7 linked regions of the Homo sapiens genome follow. The protein of the gene in region 4 purifies or fractionates together with the protein of the main gene of each other region. This does not show direct contact. Each region holds a gene or a part of one and is shown on either strand. Other genes may lie near its edges. The genes, in order: LRP1, SACS, REST, USP3, MAGEA10, TEAD4 and HPN.

Evidence for each region.
Region 1: the proteins of USP3 (region 4) and LRP1 purify together in Homo sapiens (affinity purification with mass spectrometry; one large-scale study listed by BioGRID and IntAct). This does not show direct contact.
Region 2: the proteins of USP3 (region 4) and SACS purify together in Homo sapiens (affinity purification with mass spectrometry; one large-scale study listed by BioGRID and IntAct). This does not show direct contact.
Region 3: the proteins of USP3 (region 4) and REST purify together in Homo sapiens (affinity purification with western blotting; one study listed by BioGRID). This does not show direct contact.
Region 5: the proteins of USP3 (region 4) and MAGEA10 purify together in Homo sapiens (co-immunoprecipitation; one large-scale study listed by IntAct). This does not show direct contact.
Region 6: the proteins of USP3 (region 4) and TEAD4 purify together in Homo sapiens (affinity purification with western blotting, with the first as the bait; one study listed by BioGRID). This does not show direct contact.
Region 7: the proteins of USP3 (region 4) and HPN purify together in Homo sapiens (co-immunoprecipitation; one large-scale study listed by IntAct). This does not show direct contact.

What each region holds. Positions count from the first base shown.
Region 1 is NC_000012.12:57,211,172-57,213,861, reverse strand, and holds the end of LRP1 (prolow-density lipoprotein receptor-related protein 1 preproprotein), read right to left. Parts: intron 2,687-2,690; coding exon 2,512-2,686; intron 2,376-2,511; coding exon 2,274-2,375; intron 2,113-2,273; coding exon 2,048-2,112; intron 1,936-2,047; coding exon 1,845-1,935; intron 1,746-1,844; coding exon 1,601-1,745; intron 1,448-1,600; coding exon 1,307-1,447; 3' UTR 501-1,306; downstream 1-500. UniProt on the Homo sapiens protein: Endocytic receptor involved in endocytosis and in phagocytosis of apoptotic cells. Required for early embryonic development. Involved in cellular lipid homeostasis.
Region 2 is NC_000013.11:23,430,903-23,434,877, reverse strand, and holds the start of SACS (sacsin), read left to right. Parts: upstream 1-1,175; 5' UTR 1,176-1,263; exon of another isoform or gene 1,264-1,484; intron 1,485-3,975. UniProt on the Homo sapiens protein: Co-chaperone which acts as a regulator of the Hsp70 chaperone machinery and may be involved in the processing of other ataxia-linked proteins.
Region 3 is NC_000004.12:56,934,122-56,936,344, forward strand, and holds the end of REST (RE1-silencing transcription factor), read left to right. Parts: 3' UTR 1-1,723; downstream 1,724-2,223. UniProt on the Homo sapiens protein: Transcriptional repressor which binds neuron-restrictive silencer element (NRSE) and represses neuronal gene transcription in non-neuronal cells.
Region 4 is NC_000015.10:63,588,093-63,591,592, forward strand, and holds part of USP3 (ubiquitin carboxyl-terminal hydrolase 3), read left to right. Parts: exon of another isoform or gene 1-212; coding exon 213-331; exon of another isoform or gene 332-609; coding exon 610-723; exon of another isoform or gene 724-851; coding exon 852-919; exon of another isoform or gene 920-1,008; intron 1,009-2,568; coding exon 2,569-2,734; 3' UTR 2,735-3,500. UniProt on the Homo sapiens protein: Deubiquitinase that plays a role in several cellular processes including transcriptional regulation, cell cycle progression or innate immunity.
Region 5 is NC_000023.11:152,132,810-152,135,577, forward strand, and holds the end of MAGEA10 (melanoma-associated antigen 10), read right to left. Parts: coding exon 1,702-2,768; 3' UTR 501-1,701; downstream 1-500. UniProt on the Homo sapiens protein: Not known, though may play a role in embryonal development and tumor transformation or aspects of tumor progression.
Region 6 is NC_000012.12:2,993,897-2,997,396, reverse strand, and holds part of TEAD4 (transcriptional enhancer factor TEF-3), read right to left. Parts: intron 2,660-3,500; 5' UTR 2,631-2,659; coding exon 2,405-2,630; intron 1-2,404. UniProt on the Homo sapiens protein: Transcription factor which plays a key role in the Hippo signaling pathway, a pathway involved in organ size control and tumor suppression by restricting proliferation and promoting apoptosis.
Region 7 is NC_000019.10:35,058,721-35,062,220, reverse strand, and holds part of HPN (serine protease hepsin precursor), read right to left. Parts: intron 3,163-3,500; exon of another isoform or gene 2,549-3,162; coding exon 2,419-2,548; intron 2,348-2,418; coding exon 2,225-2,347; intron 2,093-2,224; coding exon 2,052-2,092; intron 1,875-2,051; coding exon 1,709-1,874; intron 1,595-1,708; coding exon 1,404-1,594; intron 1-1,403. UniProt on the Homo sapiens protein: Serine protease that cleaves extracellular substrates, and contributes to the proteolytic processing of growth factors, such as HGF and MST1/HGFL. Plays a role in cell growth and maintenance of cell morphology.

The sequences.
Region 1 (2,690 bases), on a different chromosome or scaffold from region 4:
TCCACAAAGTGAGACGTCAGTGCTTCAAGAGCAGACTCAGGCAGAGAGAACCGCATGGGAGGACCCTGAAGGATGAGAAAACCTTTGCAGCCTCAGTGTATTCACTTCTTATAGTGGGGCTTCTCACTGTGGGTGATCATTTTGGGTAGGGGGGTGGTGTCTGGTAGAAGTGAATGCAGAGAAACAGATCTGAGTTAGTGTCCTAGACCCAGAGGGAACACAAAATCTGGAGACTCGAAGTCATGGCTGAAGGTCACACAGCCAGGAGAAGCAGATCTTCCATGTCAAGTCCAGTGCCACCCGCTTCCCGGGCACAGTAAGATGGAGAGGGGGAGGGCCCTGGGAGAAGGGCACTAAAAACCACGCGCCAGCCTGCCTCCAGCACGGGGCAGGTCTCCCTCTGGTGGCCGAAGCAGGAAAGCGCAGCCCCAGCTCCCAGCGTCTCTCACACACAGGCAGACACCAGCGGCTTTTTTTCTTTCTTTTTTTTTTTTTTGGCCTTTTTTTTTTTTTTTTTTTTTACAATTTTATTTATAACAATATCTGTGTTATTTAGTTGTAAAGGAATTCAGCAAAAATTATTAAAACGTTCACGTCCCCAAAACGGGGCTGCCCGCTTTCCCTTCCTGGGTGTGGCCCACCTCCTTGGCGTCCCCAGGGGAGGGGAGGCTGGAGGAATGTTTACCAGAGGAAGTCTCCAGCCCTGGGAACCTCGGTGGGGGCCCTGGAGACAGGGAGGGCCTGTCTGGGAGGGGGGTTGAGCATGGCCATCTCATAGGTGCCCCTGGAGTTGGGGCTGGGGTTTGGGGTGGCCTCCCCCAAGAACTAAAACACTCCATCCTTTCCCGCCTACCTCACCCAGAGCCACGTCTTCCAGACAGGGGCAGCAAAGAACTCTCCCTTCCCAGAATTAGCCCTCAGGAAGCTGTGGGAGCGGGCAAGCAGGGATGGGGCGAGAGGGGAGAGCCTTGGCAAAGTGTCTTATACAGGGAGGGGAAGGCTGCACCACCAGCTCTCCCAGTGGGGTGCGTTCTGGTGGGAGGGTAGGAGGTGCAGCCCCAAGCCCTCCCTGCCTGTCTCCCTGAAGGCAGCATGGGGGTGCCAAGGAGCAGGCAGGGAGGGGATGGAGAAATAATACTGTGCTCGCTTGCCGGCTTGCTCGCTCACATATAAAATGTAATTCCTTCATTTTTACATTTATACATCCGGCGGGGCCAGGGAAGGGCTGGCTGGGGAGGGGCTCACTGAAGGACTTCACTGGCAGGGGGCAGGAGGCTTTCTGGGGGCAGTCCGACGGGGCAGGGCCCTATGCCAAGGGGTCCCCTATCTCGTCCTCAGGGCCCCGGCCCAGGAGTTCTCGCTTCTCGTCCGTGCTGGCCAGGGAGTGGCGACTGCCATGGCCCCCCATGTAGAGTGTGGCATACACGGGGTTGGTGAAGTTGGTGGGCTGCAGGGTGACAGAGGGTTCAGGTAGGGCTCAGGAGCTGGGCCTGTAGCCCAGGTTACCCCACCCCCACCTCCGTCCCTCACCTAACCCAACACCTTTGGTTAGGCCACCCACGGCCTCTTGGCACTCGACCCTGCCCGCCTCCCAGCCCACCTTGTCAGGGTCCAGGGCAAAGTCAGCGTCCAGTAGGCCTCCCACATCATCAGGCTCTCCGCCTTCGTACATCTTGTAGGTGGGGTTTCCAATCTCCACGTTCATGGCCCCGTTGGTCATCCGTTGGTGCTGGAAGCCCTTAGCCCTGGGGAAAGGCAGGAGTATAAGGAGACAGAGATTATTGGGGGGGAAGGCTAGGATGGCAAAATAATGACCAGAATGTTCCAGAATCCCTGTGACTCACCCTTGGACTCGCCGCTTATACCAGAATACCACTCCGGCCACCAGAACCAGCAGCAGCAGCAACAGCAGAGGGATTAGGATGGAGGCTATATCTGGAGGGAAGAGGTGGGACACTGAGTCACCAAGGCTCAGGGAAGCAGGAGGCACACGGTCCCCCTGCTCTAGGTCCCGGTGGCCCTGCCTGCCCCAACCCCTGCCACCTACGTCCTGGCTGCTGCTGGCTGAAGACGTGCTCCTCACACCGGGGCCCTGTCATGTGGGGTGGGCACCTGCAGAAAGGAGGGACACGGCTGAGTAGGTATAACCTCCATAGCCACTGCTGCCAGGAAAACAGGGCGGGGGGTGGGCACTGAGGCCTGACGGTCCTCCTGCTCAAATCTGGGGAAGGGAGCGATGATCTATGCCTGGGTGAAGCCCGGGCCCAACTCACTGGCACTCAGGCATCATTTTGCTGTTCATGGTACAGGAGCCGCCATTGCTGCAGTGGCCGACGCAGGTCAGACAGCTGGGGGCCACCCGGCCATCCGTGCAGCTGCAGGAAGGAATCAGAGGCTGGGGCTGGGGCTGGCAGAGGCGTGCCTGGGATGCTGAGGAAGGGAGGGGCAGGGCAGGGCTAGGACAGGGCAGGGGCCCAGCTGGGTGGAACTGTGGAGGAGGGCCCCACTCACTTGCAGGTGACATCCCCACTCTGCTTGTTGACCACACAGGCCCCTTCGAGACAGCGGCTGCACTTGTTCACCTCACACCTCGATCCCTCAAAGTAGGCAGTGCAGCGGCATTGTCGGGAGCCATCAGCAGCCATCTGGCATGTGCCAAAGTTCTCACAGTAGCCAGAGCACTGCCCTGT
Region 2 (3,975 bases), on a different chromosome or scaffold from region 4:
ATGCCAGGAACAAGCAAGGGCTCAATATTTGTGTGCTGAATTAAACTGATTACAACTGAACCATGTAAGAATGGTGGTAGCCTCAGAGAGGCAGCCTCACTCCACAGGCGCATGCCACCGAGGGCCTGTTGGTCCACACGGTGCTACAGTGAGAGCTCAATGAAAAGGCCCTGCAAGACACCATTTCTCCCCAATAGAAATGTGCTTTGTTTGTGATTATTCAGTCCTTTTGTTAGAACAGGTCTCCCACCTATCTCCCAGGAAATAATATGTACACAAATCTGTGAGTCTAGGATGTGAAGGAGACACCATTAGATGTGGCATCTTCTGGGTCAGACCAGTGCAGGGCCAGGTACAAGAAGCAGGGGCTCTCCTTCCCCAGTTGCTGCTGACATTTGGGGCTTGCTTTGGTCTTCTCCCAGGAGAGATCATTTGAGCCTTTTCAGGTCTGGAGTTGTTTGAACTGACTTAAGAGGAATTTTCCGCAGGAACGAAGCAATAAGAAGCTTCCGAGATCCAGTATTTCCAGATAAGCCAAAATTCTAGATTTATATGGATAAAGCAGGCAGTTCTACTAGGAGACTATCATGAGGAATATGATGTACCCAGGCCAGTGGCAGGATAGCTGTGCGCCGAAATGAAATAAATGCTGGTGGTATTTCACATACCCCATCAGAGGAAGCAAGAAAATAGAGTTACAATATTTTGTATTATTAAATTGAGACTAGCAATTTCAACTTAGAACAGGATCAATTGTATAGCATTTCACAGTTTACCACACATTTTGAGTGAATGCTTTTTTTTTTAACCATTGGAACCTCATAAACAACTCCAAATAACATACAAAAAGCAGATTGTGAGCTACAACATTACCAGGTCACAGGTCTTCATTTCCCATGAGGTACTCGAGACCCATGAGTGACTTGTCTAAGGTCACACAACTGGTGTTTAATAGAGCCAGTCTTCTGTTAGCCATACCTACTGCTAAAAATTAGCCTTTGCAAGTGAAGAGAACAAAAACGTGTGGTTGGTTGTCACCCCCACAATGAACGACAATGCTGCACTTGCAGCATTATTGACACCTAAGGTTGATGACAGTCCTGTCTCTTTAAGAAGAAAAAAAAAGGCTGCTGGGTAGGGGGAGCGACTGACTGCGGCAGGAGCCGCCTGGACCCAGTGCGGCTGCGGGACAGTCACGCTGGGAACTGCTGATGGCACTGGAGGAAAACAAAGGCCGAGAGACCCTGATGCCCACAGCCCCCAGTAAGTCCAAGGTTCCAGCTGGGTGGCCAGCGAGGGCAGCTGCAGGAGCGGCCTGGGGACGGGCAGGCTCCATGGTGTTGTTGGCCATCCGTCCCCTGAGCCTTGGGAAACCAGGGCTCGGCCACTGCAGCTGCTTGGGGGAGGTAAGGGGCCACTTTCCTTTAACATACCCGCCTTCGGAGAGGACAGAGACGAGAGGGCCTTCAGCGTGCTGTACAGCTGTGAGTAATGAGCTCTTCTGAAAATGTACAGTTTGGGTTGGCTGCTTGTGAATTTGTGGGTGAGGAGCGGCTGCAGGGTGACTAGAGAGATCTGCCGCGGTCAAGATGCTGGACTAGCCGCTTTGTCATTTTAATTTCCACCCGGGTTGCCAGGCACCGCCACAATGGAGCTGTTGCAGTAACACAGCGTGGGGTCCAGAGTCTTATTGAACAATAAGATGGGATTCTCAAAGTAGCTTACGGTTAATTTGCAGAATTGCTCTCACTTTAAACAGCATGCCTTCAAACAATGCCATATGTTATGGTTATCTTATATAATATTTGAAAATCCTGCTTTTAGTTAAAAAATATTTCACATATTTAATTTTATTCTAATAAGCGATCATTAGATTCTTTGAAAGAGTATTCCAGCTTTAGCAACAAAACCTCTCTCTCGCTGTCTTTTTTTCTTCCTTAAAACGAGGTCAATACCTCAGAGAAGAGGACTGGATTTGTTTCTATTAAAACATATCAATTGTTTTGGCTTTAATCTTAATTCTCTCTGCCCCTGAAGATGGATAAAGCCCATTCCGCTTAAGTAAAAGGCAGAAGCCAGGTTGAATCCACGTGCTTCCCAAGCGCAAGCTGCTCTGAAGTTATTTTGAAGGGGAACTCTTCATTTCTCCATCAGTGCAGATAAAAGTAATTGATTCACAGGTCATGGATGAAAATAATAATAATAATAATAAATAATTGACAATCCCATTTTATTTGTCACATGACAAGTAGATTTGCCATTCTGTTTTTCTTAAGCTGCCCATTGATAACCAGACTCATTCTACGTTAATGCAGGGTCATGATGTCCCAGTAGTTTTACTTATGACCATCCAGACTGCCTTCCCTAATCTTGCCCTGAAGCCTCACTTTGGGCTGTGACAACGATCCCCAGTTTCCTTTCCTCTATCCTCCTTAGCCGTCCCTTTCATCCTTTCTTCTCCTTCCTGGGCTGTTTGGGCAATTTTTTCTTTCTTTTCTCCTTGGATCTTAAAGACTCCTTCAGTCTCCCTTTCAAACAAAGCAAGCCAGATTTTCTACATACCCTATTTTCCTTTAATCTTACTTGGTTTATAAGAACTTTTCCACGATTAAGTGTTTTCTATTCTTCACATAATAGGAAGAAAAGTCCAATTATAGAACTTGAAGACCAAGGTTTGCTTACATCTGAAGCATCTCAAAACCATTGCTTTACGCAGGACTTGCCCCCAGAAGCCCCGGGTTCCAATCTCAGGTCTACCACATCCTTACTCTGCAGCCCCTGACAATCCACATAACTTCTGTGAGCCTCAGTTCCCTCCTGTGTCAGAGATGACACAATTATTCACTTAATGGTCACAGGGTTGAAACCAGGTGATTTGTATGAAGGCGCCTAGCAGGGTTCTTCACACAGTGTCACTATTTAGTAAGAGTTTTGTCGTTTTCTCACTCAGTCCACCATCTACCTAACCACCATGGTGAAGCATGCTAAAGTGGTTCATGCACCATTTCCCAAAAGGAATAAATTTTGAAATGAACTTTTGGCTGAGTGCATCTGAATGAGTCCTGATCAGTACAAAATACATATTCAGTTCTTGCTATGCACGAAACACTGTTCTAAGCCCTCTTGTCTATAAAAGGAACGCTGATGTTTCCATGTTGCCATAGGAGTATTCTTTGGAAGAAGGAAGGCCGATTCTCTTTGTACAACTCTTCCTAAATCCTTTAAGACAGCAGCAGTGATGATGATATTGACCACTCCCACCATGAGCCTACATGAGGACTACTAAATGTGATTGATGCAGAGGATGCCAAATTGGAAGTCAGGACAATTCCCATTGCTATTCTGATCTTGGACAGCCTGGGTGGCAATTTGCTCTTTGCAATGACAATCCTGTTACTATTTTAATTTCTACTTTATGTGTCTTTCTCCTGCCGTCTTTCCTTTCCTTAACTCACACTCAGGATATTGTGTAAGATTTTAACGTCTAGGAGAGGCCGTTTCACCCCTACCTAAGGGGGAACATAGCGAAGTTGGGAAAAGCACTGGATTGGGGACCAAAGGGTGTGGCTCCAGCCCTGCTTTGACTTCTCTTTGTGCTAATTAGAAAGCCTTTTAACGCCATCTCTAAGGCAAGAGACATAGAATAATCTTTCAATTTCCTTCAGGTTCTGACTAGATGATTCAGATAGCTCTCTTTGGGGTAGCCTCAGTTTACAACAATTATTTGATCAAATTAAATGCTTTTATCTCATTGATTCTTACAATAGCCTTATGAAACAGGCAGCCCCATTTTGCAGATTACAAAATGCAACCTTAAGAGAGAGTAGAACCCCAAGTATTTCTTATTAGTAAAAGGAGAGACTGACTAGATGGTAAGACTCGATTCCCTTGGGGAGCATCACTGAGTTCTCAGACTGAACTCTGAGCTCTGTTCCTACCATGGTATCCCCCTCAAGGCACTTCAAATTGACGACG
Region 3 (2,223 bases), on a different chromosome or scaffold from region 4:
AATTCTAGGCTCCGACAATCATTGTCAACAGAAGATCAAGCTGCAAATATTTATGTTTTAAAACTTAAATTATAAAGCTAGTTAAGTCTTTCTAATGACTAGTTTTAATGTTCATGGGTACATTTTACCTAAGTTACCGTTTACATTGTATAGAAAAAGATACATCTTAAGCACAGATTGGTTATTAGGAATTAGTTTGGGGAAGAGGTTTTTTTGTGGATTCTTTCATACTGCAAAGAAAAACCATTTGCCTTTTGGGGAATTGAGCTAACTTCTAATCTAGTCTTAAGACTAGAATGCTAAAAACAAAAACATGAAGGAAATTAAAACCCCTTATTATTAAATTGATTTGTAAAAACATTGTTACTGGAAATTTATTGGACTTGAGGCCTTCCTCCAGAAAATAAGGACTTGATTGTCAGGCCTATATTAGGTTCTGAACCTTAATGCCATGTATTTGTACTTACTAAAAATTGTTTCAATGAAAAGTACATTAGCAGTATGAACTTCTGGTCCAGTTGGAAGTTTTTCCATTTGAAAAATGTGATGTTTGCATGGAACTGTTTGAAACTTTTTTATTTTCTAGTCCCCCTCCCCCACACTGGATAGAATTTAGCCTAGAATTTTCCCTTTGGATAAAAGAACAAAAATTGAACATGTTATTTGTAAATTGATGTTTAGTAATTAGTGATAAACTTGAAATACTAGCATATATTATAAGCCTTAATCTTAGGTAGTCTTATGAAAATGAATCTCTTAACTATCTTTTGAACCTGTATTCACATTGGTTTTCAAGATATTTTAAGTTATATTTTTTCCTCTTTTCAGAGCTGCTTCTTATTCTGGGGCTACTTTTTTTTTTAGTTGTGTAATTCACAAAGGGCTGCATTTTTTTTTTTTTTTAATAAGGCTTATAACTATGGCTGGATCTTTTGCTCTAGTCTTCTAAGAAGGGCCATTTTATTTTTTAGAGTCACTTCTAAAGTCATGTGGTAATTAACTTTGGAGACTGTTTTGCGTATGAGTGCTGATACAAATTAAAACCCAAGTAGACCTCATTGCATGTCACCCTATGAATGTTGACAATGGAAGGAATACCTTGCCTGTAGTATACTGTCACTTCTGGATTGATAAGCTGAGGAAGAAAGTTAAGTTTCTTTTTTACATAAGTCAGAAAAACTTACAGCTGGTGTTCCTAGTTTCCTGGTTGACCTCAGCAGATGAAGTGAACAGATAGTGTTAATTCAGATTGAAGAAATTATCTGAATCTTGGTTTGTGTAGATTTACAATCTACATGCAATATTAACTAAATCAGATAGCTTTTACAGTTTCACATGTGTACATAGGTTCCCTCCCGGTCCCTTCCATATCCATTAGTTATTGAACTTTCTAAACTGGCATTGAAACATTACAACAATGTTTTGTTGCACCAATTTTATAAACTTAAGCAGTGCAATACGTGTTACTTTTCTGAGGCAAACCAAAGGTAAATTTCTCAAGGTTCTTGCTGCCTTCTTTAGCAGCATTTGATGGAAGATCTTTTATACATTTGTAATAGATAAAAATAAACCAGATTGCAAATCCTTTTTTAAAATCCTAAACCATGTACCAAGTTTTTGGTCCAAATTATGTAGGATAAGTTAAACTTAAATTGCATTCTATTAACCAATATGAGTGTATTTCTGTAAGCATAGTTATGTTGAAATAAAGTTTTAAAAACCATGATGCCTTTGTTTATTATTGGTATATCCAGAATGTAGGAAAGCCAAATTTATGTTGCTGGAACTGCAAGTGTATTAATAGGCTTTTGAAGATTATTTCTCAGGCTGGGCGCAGTGGCTCACGCCTGTAATCCCAGCACTTTGGGAGGCTGAGGCAGGTGGATCATGAGGTCAGGATTTCAAGGCCAGCCTGGCCGACATAGTGAAACCACGTCTCTACTAAAAATACAAAAATTAGCTGCGTGTGGTGGCAGGCGCCTGTAATCCCAGCTACTCGGGAGGCTGAGGCAAGAGAATCGCTTGAACACAGGAGGTGGAGGTTGCAGTGAGCCGAGATCGTGCCATTGCACTTCAGCCCAGGCGAGAGTGTGAGACTCTGTCTTTAAAAAAAAAAAAAAAAAAAGTATCACAGGTAGAAAAGTCACAGCATGTTGTCTGAGGTAACAGTCCAGTATGGGTAGTAACCCAAAGCATACACTGCTTGATGGGAGGTGCGGGAGA
Region 4 (3,500 bases):
TGCCAGGTGCTCTACACATTATTTCTCTTCCTTATAATAGTTCTTCAAAGTAGGTATTATTTTTTGTCTCCAGTTTGCAATTGAGAAAGGTTAACTTTTCTAAGGTCGTATAGCTAATAAAGCTGAGATTTTAAACCTGGGTCTTTTTTCTACAGTACATTGCCTCTACAAAAGGCATCTTGTTTTAATGCTGCCAAAATCAATTTGTTTAGATTGTCTTCGCAGTTTTACCGACTTAGAAGAACTTGATGAGACAGAGTTATATATGTGCCATAAATGCAAAAAGAAACAAAAGTCCACAAAAAAGTTTTGGATTCAAAAACTACCCAAGGTGAGTGTTGAATTTTGAGTTATGAAGCAATTTCAATGGGAAAGTGCTTGACTGCTAAGACCATGTCTATAACTTTACACTATGTGAACTGTTCTGTATTTTTCTCTAGGATTTTCAGTAAAAGCTAAACCCCTTACAGAATGAATGCATAAGGTATGCATGGAAGAATGATTGATAGGGCAGCTAAAATGTTATTTACTGAACTGATAGTAGTATCAAACTTTGACTGAAAGGTAAATTAGGTGTTCACAATCTTTGACCGCATCTCTGTCCTCCAGGTGCTATGCTTACATTTGAAAAGATTTCATTGGACAGCATATTTAAGAAATAAAGTTGATACATACGTAGAATTTCCACTGAGAGGCCTAGACATGAAATGCTACTTACTAGAGGTAAGGTGGTTACCTTTTTAGCATGGTGAAAAAATGGCTCTTCAGTAAGATTGTCATCACATGGAGAGGGTAGAGGTCATCGAGATACTGATGTCATTGACCACTGCTCCTTCTTCCTTGTTCTGTAGCCTGAGAACAGTGGCCCGGAGAGCTGCCTGTATGACCTCGCCGCTGTGGTGGTGCACCATGGTTCCGGGTGAGTACAACAGCCAGCTTCTGGTGGGTGGGAATACCTGGTGGCCAGCCCAATGACCTGCAGTTTTGTACCACTCTTGCTAGTTCTTCCTAAAAAATGGATTCAGATAAAGTAGGTGAAATTTCCTTCAGTTTTGGTGCGGAAGAGTACTCCTCAGATGATGTTGTGAAGGCTTAAGGGAAGGTAAATAAAAGTGAAATGAAGAATGGTTCATTTGAACCCAGTATTTACGACCCAGTCTTTATTTGTCCACAAACTCCAAAGTTGCTTATTCGTTTACCAACTGAAATTTAAATGGGGCAAAAGGGGAAATTACTTGGAATAACTTACTCCATATCATCTACTTTAAAGACTCATTTTAAGTCTTGTTAAAAAACATTAATTTTTTCCCCTGAAAGTTTGTATGAGGGGTCTAACCTTCTGGTTTTTGGTTTGAGAGTGGCTATTTTACCTTCAAACTTAAGACTACTATATGTGGGCAGACGACTATCCATGTTGAAAATCCTTTTCCCGCAGAGCTGTGATAAAGTAACGTCTACACTCACATAGTGTTATGAATGACAAGTCTGATTCTCACTACTTTACAGGCACCTGGCTTTTTTCTCCTTGGAGTGTATTCCTGCTTGGTAGTTGGTAGGGACACTTTTAATTTGGTGCCTTCAGCTCATGAAACTCTCTATACTGTAGGTCTGAAATCATTTGTTCTCTGTACCCCTATTATATGCATAGTGAATTTCCTGGATCTCCCTTCCACATGTCTTAAATACTCTAATGATTTCTGTCTGTGTTTCTAAAGACTGCCATGGCCTACTTTTCCAAATCACCAATTTGGGTTTCATCTGTATCCAAATAAAAGATAAGCTCCTCCATAAAATATTTATATTAAATCAGTCACATTTTTCTGACAACTTTTTCGTAACAGCCTATTCTTGTTTTATGATTGCACTATCTTTTTGAAACTATTAGCACTAATTTAAAAATGTAAAGTTCTCTTAGGTTTTCTGCATTCAATTCCTCAGGGTTGATTGCCTTGCTTGTTCTTCCCGGTATTTCTTTCCCCTCAAAAATGTGATTTTGTAGGCGTGCAAAAGGCTTGTTTTTAAAATTTGGTTTTGGTGGTTTATTTGGAATCATAGTAAATGATGAGATGGATCTTTATTATTTAAATAGGGTTTTCCTGGCACCTACAAAGGTCTGTTCTAGCTGCAGGCCTTCCGTCTGACTTGGAGGACTGACTCCAGGGTTGTGTGTGTGAGTGGGTGGGTCATGCTGATAGGGTAGAGCCCCTGATGACCACGGTGTCAGGGAAGGGTGCCCTTCTTTGTTAAGCTTAGTTTTTTCCTAAGATTCTGATGGGAAAACCTGGTACCTAGTTTTCCATGTTTCCGTAGGCTTTGACCTGTGCTTGTTAGGTTGCGAGTTCCTCATCTCTGTTTTCTCCATTAGTCCAGGGCCATCTGCTTTGTGTTCTAGCAAACCCTCGATTTCTGGTCAGTTTGGAGGAAGGTAAAAACATTAATTTAACAAGCATCTTAAATCAAAAGTCTAGGATGTATTCTTATTAAAATTTAAATCTAACATTATATAGTTGTACAGGTCTTTTTGTGATTTCTGAGGTTCTTTTTTCCTTTGGTCTTTTGCCTTTACAGGGTTGGTTCTGGACATTACACAGCATACGCAACTCACGAAGGCCGCTGGTTCCACTTCAATGACAGTACTGTAACACTGACTGACGAGGAGACTGTGGTGAAGGCGAAGGCCTACATCCTTTTCTACGTGGAACACCAGGCCAAAGCTGGATCGGATAAACTTTAATACCTCCTCCAAATCATCATTCACCAACCATACCAGAGAAACATTTCCAGTTTTCCACAAATACTTGATACAAGATTTAATTTCATTATGCACTTTTCAATTTCCTATTTTGGATTTAGTTTTGTCAATGGTAGTGACTTACTGAACATGGGCACCAACTAATTTTGTTGTTGTTCTACCAGAAAACCTCAGCAGATGTTTTGATTTGCTGCTTTAGTTGTAATAATTCAATTTTTATAGGTAGTTGTAAGAACTTAGTCTTATTTGACTTTTTTATTTTATGTTAATGTTTTCAGTTCTCACTTTGAGGCACATTTACATCAATGCTTTTGTTCCTCTCACATGCTGAAAGCAAGATGTGTTCCTTATTGTGAAGAGCGACACAACTGCCTGCTGCCTTTCCACAGCTATAATGGACATCAGGTTGACTCTAAATCAAGGATCATGTGTGCACAATACTTGTGGCCCACAAAATTTCACAATGACTGCTGAGGAATCATTCTTTTTGCCTGTAAAATATAACAAAGGGCATCATTAAGTAGACCAGGTAATTACTGCTTGTCTCTCAAGGCTGCTGTCTTTATCAGCACTAACTAAATAAATTTGTTGGTTCAGTTGTACTTGTCCTGCAAATACAAGAATTACTCTCTTTGTTGGTTTTTTTGGTTTTGGGGCATACTTGTTTGCGGGGAGGTAAGATGGGAGTAAAGACCAAATACATGTAATGTTTAAAAAAAATGCTGTGACTCACTGACATGGTATAGGT
Region 5 (2,768 bases), on a different chromosome or scaffold from region 4:
ATGGGTATCTATCACCTAGTTATTTTTTTAATTTAATTAGGAGTTCAACTGCACTGAGACAAGAGTGCAGAACACCTTCCATTCCTGCCCCAGGTGGACTCCTCTCTGTTCATCCACCACCCAAAAGGAACTGCTCAGAGCAGTTTTACATCCCAGGATTTGCTCTGTCAACTATGTGAGGCTCTGACCCTGGCACCACCCAGCTTCTTTGGATTCATCTTCACCAGAAGGAACTGCAGTTTCTCAAAGCCCCAAAAGTCCTGGCTCAGAGGATGTACGTGACCACTCTCACCTACAGCCCAATACCCTCACCCCGTCTTACTTTTCTTCTGGGTCTTAGAGGACATCTTGCCACCTTGTTACTTGACTGCAGCCCCTAGACTCTACCACCCTATGGGTAAAGGTGGTTCTGGCTTAACATTTCCACTACAGACCCAGGGCCTTCCACAGACCAGATGCTCAGTGGATGTTTGGGGAAAAAATGCACTAGTGAGCAAAGGTTTCATTTATTACAGTTTAATTTCGACTTAACAAGATCCAGGGATATAACTTTTAATTTTGCAGGATGATAAACTAAAAATAATAAAGAAATAAAAATACTAACACTTAAAATTATTTTCTCTATTTTACTATTTTTTTCATATTTCCAAGAAAATTACTATTCCAATTCCATGTTATTTTATTACAGATTACAAATATGATGGAAGGGTTCCCAATTTGTTTTACAAAATAGCAAAACTGTTTCTTAAACTGGATAAACAGAAACGAACGTGTGACCTTAGATTCTGAAGCTCATAAACATTCTAGTAAAAGTAACAACATTTTAAAATACCAAGAAGAGGCTGGGTGCAGTGGCTCACACCTGTTATCCCAGCACTTTGGGAGGCTGAGGCGGGCAGATTACCTGAGGTCAGGAGTTTGAGACCAGCCTGGCCAACATGGTGAAACCCCATCTCTACTAAAAAATACAAAATTAGCCGGGTATGGTGGTGCACACTTGTAATCCCAGCTACTCAGGAGACTGAGGCAGGAGAATCGCTTGAACCCAGGAGGCGGAAGTTGCAGTGAGCCGAGACTGCACCACTGCACTCCTGCCAGAGCAATAGAGTGAGACTTTGTTAAAAAAAAAAAAAGAAGAAGAAGAAAAAGAAAATAAAATACCAAGAAGAAAAGAAAAGAAGTCCCCAGGTTATCCAAAGAAAACAGTAAGACAAAGATGTTATGCACTGTATTTTCCTCAGCCTCAGCCTGGCCCTCCACCACATACATCATTGATTTCCATTCTCATTTGTTTTCATAAATTAAAAAAAAACAAAAACATAAACAAAAACTGACATGTAATTGTAGATATTTATGAGGTACAATTTGATGTTCTGATTCATGTATATGTAGTATAATGATCAAATCAGGTAGTGTATCCATCACCTCATGCATTTATCATTTCTTTTTGGTGACAATATTGAAAAGCCTTCCTTCTAGCTGTTTTGTAATATACAATATCTTAATGTTAACTATAGTCATCCTACTGTGCAATAGAACACTAGAACTTATTCCTCCTATTTAATTGTAATGTAACTACTGCTCTACTCTCTACTTCCATGATACCAACTTTTTTTTTTTTTTTTTTTAGATTCCACATATGAGTAAAATCATGTGGTATTTGACTTGCCTTTTAAAACACAGTGAAGAATCTGTCTTACTTTATTCAGGGTAGGAGAAGCTACCTGTAGCGCTAGAACTTGCACTGGCCATGGCAGTAGTATCATCTGTGGTGGCAATTCTGTCCTGGGCTCTCTCTTCCTCATCTTTCAAAGCCTCCTCATACCACAGTGGGAAGGATCTTGGATCACTCCCATTTACCTTGGCCAAAAATTTCAGGAGACTCATCTTCCTAATTTCAGCATGAGCCCTTGGACCCCACAGAAACTCATACCGTGCAGGATCACTGCCAGGCACCTGCCGGTACTCCAGGTAGTTTTCCTGCACCCAATCTTGGGTGAGCAGCTTCCTGGGCTCCCCATAAATGAGGTGCTCCATCCCATCATACAGCCCCATCATATTCAGTGCTTCCCAGATGACCTCCTCAGGGGTGCAGTAGCCCTCTATGAAGACTATGCTTAGGATAAGTATGAGAATGCCAGTCTTGGGCATGCTCTGGACATCACTCAGCATCCCATCATAGGTGAGGCCCAGGGAGGTGACAAGGACAAAGGAGTGGCCAGTGGGATCCACTTCCTTTACATCAATGCCAAAGACCAGCAGCATGCACTCGGAGGCTTCACTAAACAACAAAGGGAAGTGGTCTTCATAATTTCTTATGACACTCTCCAGTATTTCTGCCTTTGTGATCGGCTCCTTCATTTGATACTTGAAGAGCAGAAACTGCACCAAATCAGTCACCTTTTCATCTATCTCACTTCTGGGTAAAGACTCACTGTCTGGCAGGACCTGTAGGGTGCTTGGACTCTCCTCCTTTTGGCTGCTGGAGCCCTCATCAGATTGATCTAATGGAAGGGAAGCAACGACCGAGGGGGAGGAGCAGGCTATCTGAGCACTCTGGGGAGGATTTGGTGTCTCATCATCAGCAGAAACCTCCTCTGGGGTGCTTGGTATTAGAGGATAGCAGGAGGAGGAGGAGGAAGAGGAGGAGGAGGGAAAAGAGGATGGAAAAGAGGAGCTGGTGGAAGTGGATGATGAAGCATCCTCCTCCACAGCCAGGGGAGCCTGTGCACCCTCGAGGCCCTGTGTCTCACTTTGGGATTGAAGAT
Region 6 (3,500 bases), on a different chromosome or scaffold from region 4:
CCCCAGGTGCTCCACACACAGCTGTCTCCCCCATGACGCTTCCCCAGGCGCTAAAAGTAAGAAGCAGAACTTCACAAGTAGAGGTGGAAGGGACTTCACAGGAGTTCTGGCCAGTAAATATTTCAGGGGTTAGTTTCCCAGTGTCTTCCTTAAATGTATCCAGGTCACTCTTCTTCATCCCATTCTCCTGTCTGCTAGCTGCAATGTAACTCCTGGAGCTGAAGCAGCTGCTTGGGCCTTAAGGGAACATTCACAATGGAAGGCATGCTCATGAGCCACAAGACGGAAGCATCCTGGGTCCCTGAGAGCTTCATGGAGCAGAGCTGCCACACCTTCCCTGGACTACCTACCCTCCAGACATTTATAGGAGAGAGAAGGAAATTTCCCTTATGTAAGCCACTGTTATTTGGGATCTGTTAAAGACAAATTTTATCTTAACTGCCACAAACACATTCAAGTATTTTATTTAGAAATACAGATGCAAGGCCGGGCATGGTGGCTCACACCTGTAAAATCAGCCGAGCGTGGTGGCGCACGCCTGTAGACCCAACTACTCGGGAGGGTGAAGCAGAAGAATCACTTTAACCCACGGGGCGGAGGCTGCAGTGAGCCGAGATTGCTCCACTGCACTCCAGCCTGGGCGACAGAGCAAGACTCTGTCTCAAAAACAAAAGAAAAGAAAAGAAAAGCTGGGTGCGGTGGCTCACACCTGTAATCCCATCACTTTGGGAGGCCAAGGTGGGCGGATCACCTGAGGTCTGGAGTTCAAGACCAGCCTGACCAACATGGAAAAACCCTGTCTCTACTAAAAATACAAAATTAGCCAGGAGTGGTGGCACGTGCCTGTAATCCAAGCTTACTCGGCAGGCTGAGGTGGGAGAATCGCTTGAACCCGGGAGGCAGAGGTAGCGTTGAGCTGAGATTGCGCCCATTGCACTCTAGCCTGGGCAACAAGAGTGAAACTCCATCTCAAAAAAAAAAAAAGAGAGAGAGAGAAAAGAAAAAGGAAAAAATAAGCAACCATCAGAGCAAGAAGTGGTCAAAGCAGGGAGAGTCTAGAGGGCCGACCCAGAAGTAAGGGCGACCCTGGGGAAGCCGAGCCAAGCAACAATGGTGGGGGTGGCACCAGCGTTGGGTGTGGGGGAGAAATGAATGGAAACCCGTGGGGGTGGGCAGCTGGTCTGGGGCCATCCTGTTGGAAGCCAGGCAGGGGCCCCGTTGTCACTGACTTCAGCCATTTAGAGACCCACTCAGGGCTCTCACTCCTGCCCCAAGACCACTGTTTTGAGCTAGGATTCCTAGAGGACTTTCCAACAGGAACAGAAGCCTTATCTGGGCCTTCCAACAGCCATTCAGTTTTTATTCTTGCTTCATTTTTTTTTTTTTTTTGAAACAGGGCCTCACTCTGGCACCCAGGCAGGAGTGCAACAGTGCACTCATGGCTCAATGCAGCCTTGACCTCTTGGCCTCAAGAGATCTTTCTGCCTCAGCCTCCCCAGTAGCTGGGACTGCAGGCTGGCACCACCAAACCTGGGTAATTTTTTTTATTTTTACTCCAGATGGTGTCTCGCTTTGTTGCCCAGGCTGGTTTCAAACTGCTGGCCTCAAGTGATCCTCCCACCTTGGCCTCCCAAAGTGCTGGAATCACAGGCTTGAGTGAGCCACCATGCCCAGCCCCTGCTTCATTTTTCCAGATGCCCCCTCTTCCATCCAAAAGTCATCGTGGCCCCATGCCAACTGCTTGGTCCTTCCCATGCATCGCTGAACAGTTTCAGCTGTGTTCTGCAACCCCAGCCACTCACAAAGATCAAGCCGTTTCTGGTGACCCTCTGCTGGGTTGGGGGGGGCCTTTCCTAGGGGAGTGGTCTCCAGCACTCTGCCTCTCCTAGGAACTCTCCAGGCTGCCTTGCAGAGCAGGTATCTGTGAGCTCACATTACCCTCACCCCAGATGACAGGCTGGGACTAGACCCGTCTAACCCACACCAGGCACACAGAAGGCTCGGCATCTGTTTGTTGCATGAATGAGTGAGGGAAAGAGGGGATGAGTGAGCATCCTTCACAGCCAAGGTGGGCAGCCTGCTGGTCAGGCACCTGCTGGGGTACAGCTTGTGGGGTGCTCCCCACCTGCTCTGGGGGGATGTTCTACCCCACCCAGATTCGCCTTTTCCAAGATTCCCACTCCCATCTCTGCTCACCGCCAGGGGCCCCACCCTCCACACCCCCTCACAGGCTTCTCCTCAGATGCCCCCATCCCTTGGGAGCCCAGGAGGGAAGAAAGCAGTGTCCACCCGACAAAGCCCCAAGTGGTCATCCCCTTCTGTGGCCCGGCAGGAACCCCAAGGTTCTGGTGTCGGCCCCTTGCCTCAGCCTCAGGTACAGGGCTGAACCCGACGGGCTCCTTACCATACATCTTGCCCTCGTCCGACAGGATGATTTTGCGCCTGCCACAGGGCGGGTAGATGGCGAGGGCCTCCTGGAAACTCTGCTCAATATCCGGGCTCCACACGCCCTCTGCGTCATTGTCGATGGGCTTGTCCAGTGCCTGACTGCCCCCAGAGGCGGTGCTCCCCTCAGGGGAGGTGGGAGAGCTCCACTCGTTGGAGGTAATGGTGCCGGCCGTGCCCTCCAAGGCTCCGCTTGGAGGAGCGCTCGTTGGACCTGTGGGGACAGGAACCACAGCCCCGGTGAGCAGTGGAAGAACTGCGTGGGCCACGGGATGAAGGCACTCCGGGGAGTGCCAGAGCCCGAATCAGTTGCTCAGGAAGCAAAGCGTGAAGTGAAAGATCTGTGAGAATCAGGCCTGGGGTCTTGAACAGGTCCCATCCCCTCTGGAGAGCTCATCTTCCCATCTGTCGAATGAGCACAATGACCTAGGCACTCCCTGGTATCAAGGAACCCAGACAAGGGCTGAAAAGTAGGAGACAAGGATGCAGTGCCGGGGATGCACTGACATTAAATCGACCCTGGGCAAAAAGCATGCAAAATCCTGGGTACTGTTGGTGGGAATGCAAAATGGTACAGGCCGGGCGCTGTGGCTCACGCCTGTAATCCCAGCACTCTGGGAGGCTGAGGCAGGCAGATCACTTGAGGTCAGGAACTCGAGACCAGCCTGGCCAACATGGTGAAACCCCGTTTCTACTAAAAATACAAAAATTAGCCAGGTGTGGTGGCGGGCACCTGTAATCACAGCTACTCGGGAGGCTCAGACAAGGAGAATCGCTTGAATCCGAGAAGCAGAGGTTGCAGTGAGCCGAGATCCCGCCACTACACTCCAGCCTGGGTGACAGAGCAAGACCATATGACCCAATACCTGGGTATATACCCAAACAAACTGAAAGCAGGGTCTCAAAGATATATATGTACACTCATGCTCGCGGCAGCATTATTCACAAGAGTCAAAAGGTAGAAGCAAACCAAGTGTCCATCAATGGATGAATGCATGAACAAAATGTGGTGTATACCTACAGCGAAATAGGAGCTTTAAAAAGGAAGGCAACCG
Region 7 (3,500 bases), on a different chromosome or scaffold from region 4:
CAATCTCCCATCCCCACCTCCCACCCTGCCACCATCAATCAACTTTCTATCTCTACCGATGTGCCTATTCTAGACATTTCTTTTCTTTCTTTCCTTTTCTTTTCTTCTTTTCTTCCTTCCTTCCTTTCTTTTCTTTCTCTTTCTTTCTTTCTTCTTTTTTTAACAGACAAGGTTTTGCTCTGTTACCCAGGCTGGAGTACAGTGGCACAATCCTAGCCCACTGCAGCCTCAAACTCCTGGGCTCAAGTGATCCTCCTGCCTTAGCCTCCTGAGTAACTGGAACTACAGGTATCCGTCACCACACCTAGCTCATTTTTTTAAGTGATGGGGTCTTGCTATGTTGCCCAGGCTGGTCTTAAACTCCTGAGCACAAACAATCCTCCCATCTCAGCTGCCCAGAGTGCCAGGATTACAGGCGTGAGCCACCGTGCCCAGCCTTGTACATTTCATACAAGTGGCATCCTACAGTATGTGGCCTTTGCGGCTGGCTTGTCTCATTCAGCACTGTTCTCAAGTTTCATCCTTGTGGTAGCATGAATCAGTACCTCATTCATTTCTATGGTCCAATATTCTCCCGTTGTGTGGATATACCACATTTTTTTTGTTATTTATTTATTTATTTTCAAGATGACAGAGCCTTGCTCTGTCAGCCAGGCTGGAGTGCAGTGGTGTGATCTCGGCTCACTGCAATCTCCACCTCCCGGGTTCAAGAGATTCTCCTGCCTCATCCTCCCGAGTAGCTGGGATTACAGGCGTGTGCCACCACGCCAGGCTAATTTTTGTATTTTTAGTAGAGATGGAGTTTCACCATGTTGGCCAGGCTAATTTTTGTATTTTTAGTAGAGATGGAGTTTCACCATGTTGGCCAGGCTAATTTTTGTATTTTTAGTAGAGATGGAGTTTCACCATGTTGGCCAGGCTGGTTTCAAACTCCTGACCTCGTGATCCACCCACCTCGGCCTCCCAAAGTGCTGGGATTACAGGCATGAGCCACCGCGCCCGGTCAATATACCACATTTTCTTTATGCATTTGTCCGATGAAACAGTCTTGGGCTGTTTCCATCTTTGGGCTATTATGAATAATGCTGCTATGAACACTGATGTACGAGTTTTGGTGCAGACACAGTTTCCATTTGTCTTAGGTATATACCTCCTGTCCTGGGAGTGGAAGTGTTGGGTCCAATGGTAACTTTATGTATACTTCTTGGGGAAATGCTGGCAAATTTTCCAAATTGGCTGCACTGATCATTGATAGTTAAGGCCCACTTTGTGCTCCCTCGAGATCATTCCCCTTATTGCCAAGGATGCCTGAGCCATAAGTTGATTGCCTTGTGCCCCTGGTCCCCTCCTCTGTCCTCCTGGCCTCGGGTCCTCAAGCCCCATGGCTCAGCCCTTAGACTTACCTGTGAGGGGCAGGGGACTGGAGAGGTGGACCAGGGCAATATCGTTGCTGTTCTCCTCGCTGTTGGGGTCCCGAAAGGGAAGATAGCCCCCGTGGTAGACCACAGCCTGCACCCCCAGCTGCAGACCGTGGGGAGAGGCCTGGGCCACGGCACCGGCAAACACTCGCCATCGGGACAGGACCCGGTTCCGCCTACCAGGGAAAGGGGTGGAGGGTGGCCACCTGCCTGGGCACAATCCGCCCTCCTCCCCACTGTCTCTCCGCTCCTCTGCCTCCCCATCATCAGCGCCATTGGGGGGCACTCACTCCGGGAAGCAGTGGGCGGCTGTCAGCACCCAGTCCCCGGAGAGCAGGGATCCCCCACAGAGGTGTGCTCCATCATAGCGAAGGCTGACTTGCCACGGCCACCGGCCCAAGCTGGTGTCCCGGCCTCCCACGATGCGGTCCACGGGCAGCTTCCTGCGGCCACAGTCTGTGGGACAAGGGTCAGCAGGGGGCGGCGACAGGGGACTGGAGCCCAGGTCCCCAGAGCCCAGGCTTGGCCCTGCCCTAGGGGGTCTGAAAGTACATGGCCCCATCCTGGGGAGCTTGAGGGGACGTGGCCTCCCCAAGGGCCTAAAGGAGAGGGTTCTGAGTTTTAGGATCTCACCTTGGCAGATGGCGGCCAAGAAACGGCCTCTGGGGCAATCACTGGGAGAGATGGGATTGGAGACACAGAAAGAAAGGAAATAGAGACCAGTTAAGACAGGTGGAAGGAAAACGGGGAGAGGGAGTGCCTTGGGGGTCTGAGGTGTTGCCCCACCTGCCCGCTGCCCTCCTCACCACACGGAGATGACCTCCAGCAGCCTCTGGGTGTGGGGCAGCCTCCCCTCGTCCACACAGAAGAAGCCCGACGTGCCATTGGCGCCCGCCGTTCGCACGTCCAGCTCGGAGTGGGTCAGTGCCCTGGGCGGGGCAGGGGTTAGGCCTGCTCCCCAGCCCCTCCCGGCTCCCACCCCTCCGAGGGCCCCCAGTACCTGAGGAAGCCCATCTCCTCGCAGCTGAGTCCGGCTACCCTGGCGTTGGAGCGCGAGGAGCACAGCAGCCGCCACGTCCCTTCCGTCTTGTCAAAGACCATGAGCCGAGCGTCCGCAGAGCTGACCTGCACTGCAGGGCGACAGGGCCCGGGGCCGCCTGGGTCCCACAGCCAGGCTCCCCACATGCTTCCCCAGCCGGAGCCCCTCCTGGCCTGTGCTCCAGCCATGTGGTGTAGACGTGAACCCCAGCCCATCGGAGGGTTGCAGCCCCCACATCTGCGATTGCATCTGGAATCATGACTCAAGGACTTTTTTTTTTTAAAGACAGGGTCTCGCTCTGTTGCCCAGGCTGGAGTGTAGTGGTGTGATCTTGGCTCACTGTAGCCTTGACCTCCCAGACTCAAGAAATCCTCCTACCTCAACCTCCTGAGTAGCTAGGACCACAGGCGTGCACCACCACACCTGACTAATTTTTTTGTTTGTTTGTTTTGTTTTGTTTTGTTTTGTAGAGACGGGTCTTGCTATGTTGCCCAGGCTGGTCTTGAACTCCTAGGCTCAAGCAATCTTCCTGCCTCTGCCTCCTAAAATGCTGGGATTACAGGTGGGATTACAGAGCACCATGGCACTCTGCCAGACTCAAGGACTCAGGTCGGACCAATCAACAGCAGCCTTGAGGCTGTGGCCGGCCCCTCCGCGAACCAGGGGAACTTCACTCTCCATTAGAAGTCCTAAGTTGGCTGCTCAGGAGCTGCAGGTCTGGAAGGTGACTTGGACATTCGGGAAGAAAAAAAACCATTTAACCAAGTTCCCAAGAGAATCCAGCACTTGAGGCTGGATCTGTTAAGGGTCATGTTCACCCTCTTGAGGGAAAAAGTGAGCTAACGTGGAGGAGAGTCAAGAGATTTCTGATAACATTTTATTTTATTATTGTATTTTTTGTGGAGAAACCGAAGCTCTTTATTAGTATGTTTGTCATTTGTCTTTTTCCATTTGTCTTTGGTCACACCCTTAACTCATATAAAAAGACCTCTCACTTTATACGTACACAGACAGCATATGGAAAATAGAAGAACAAATTTGTT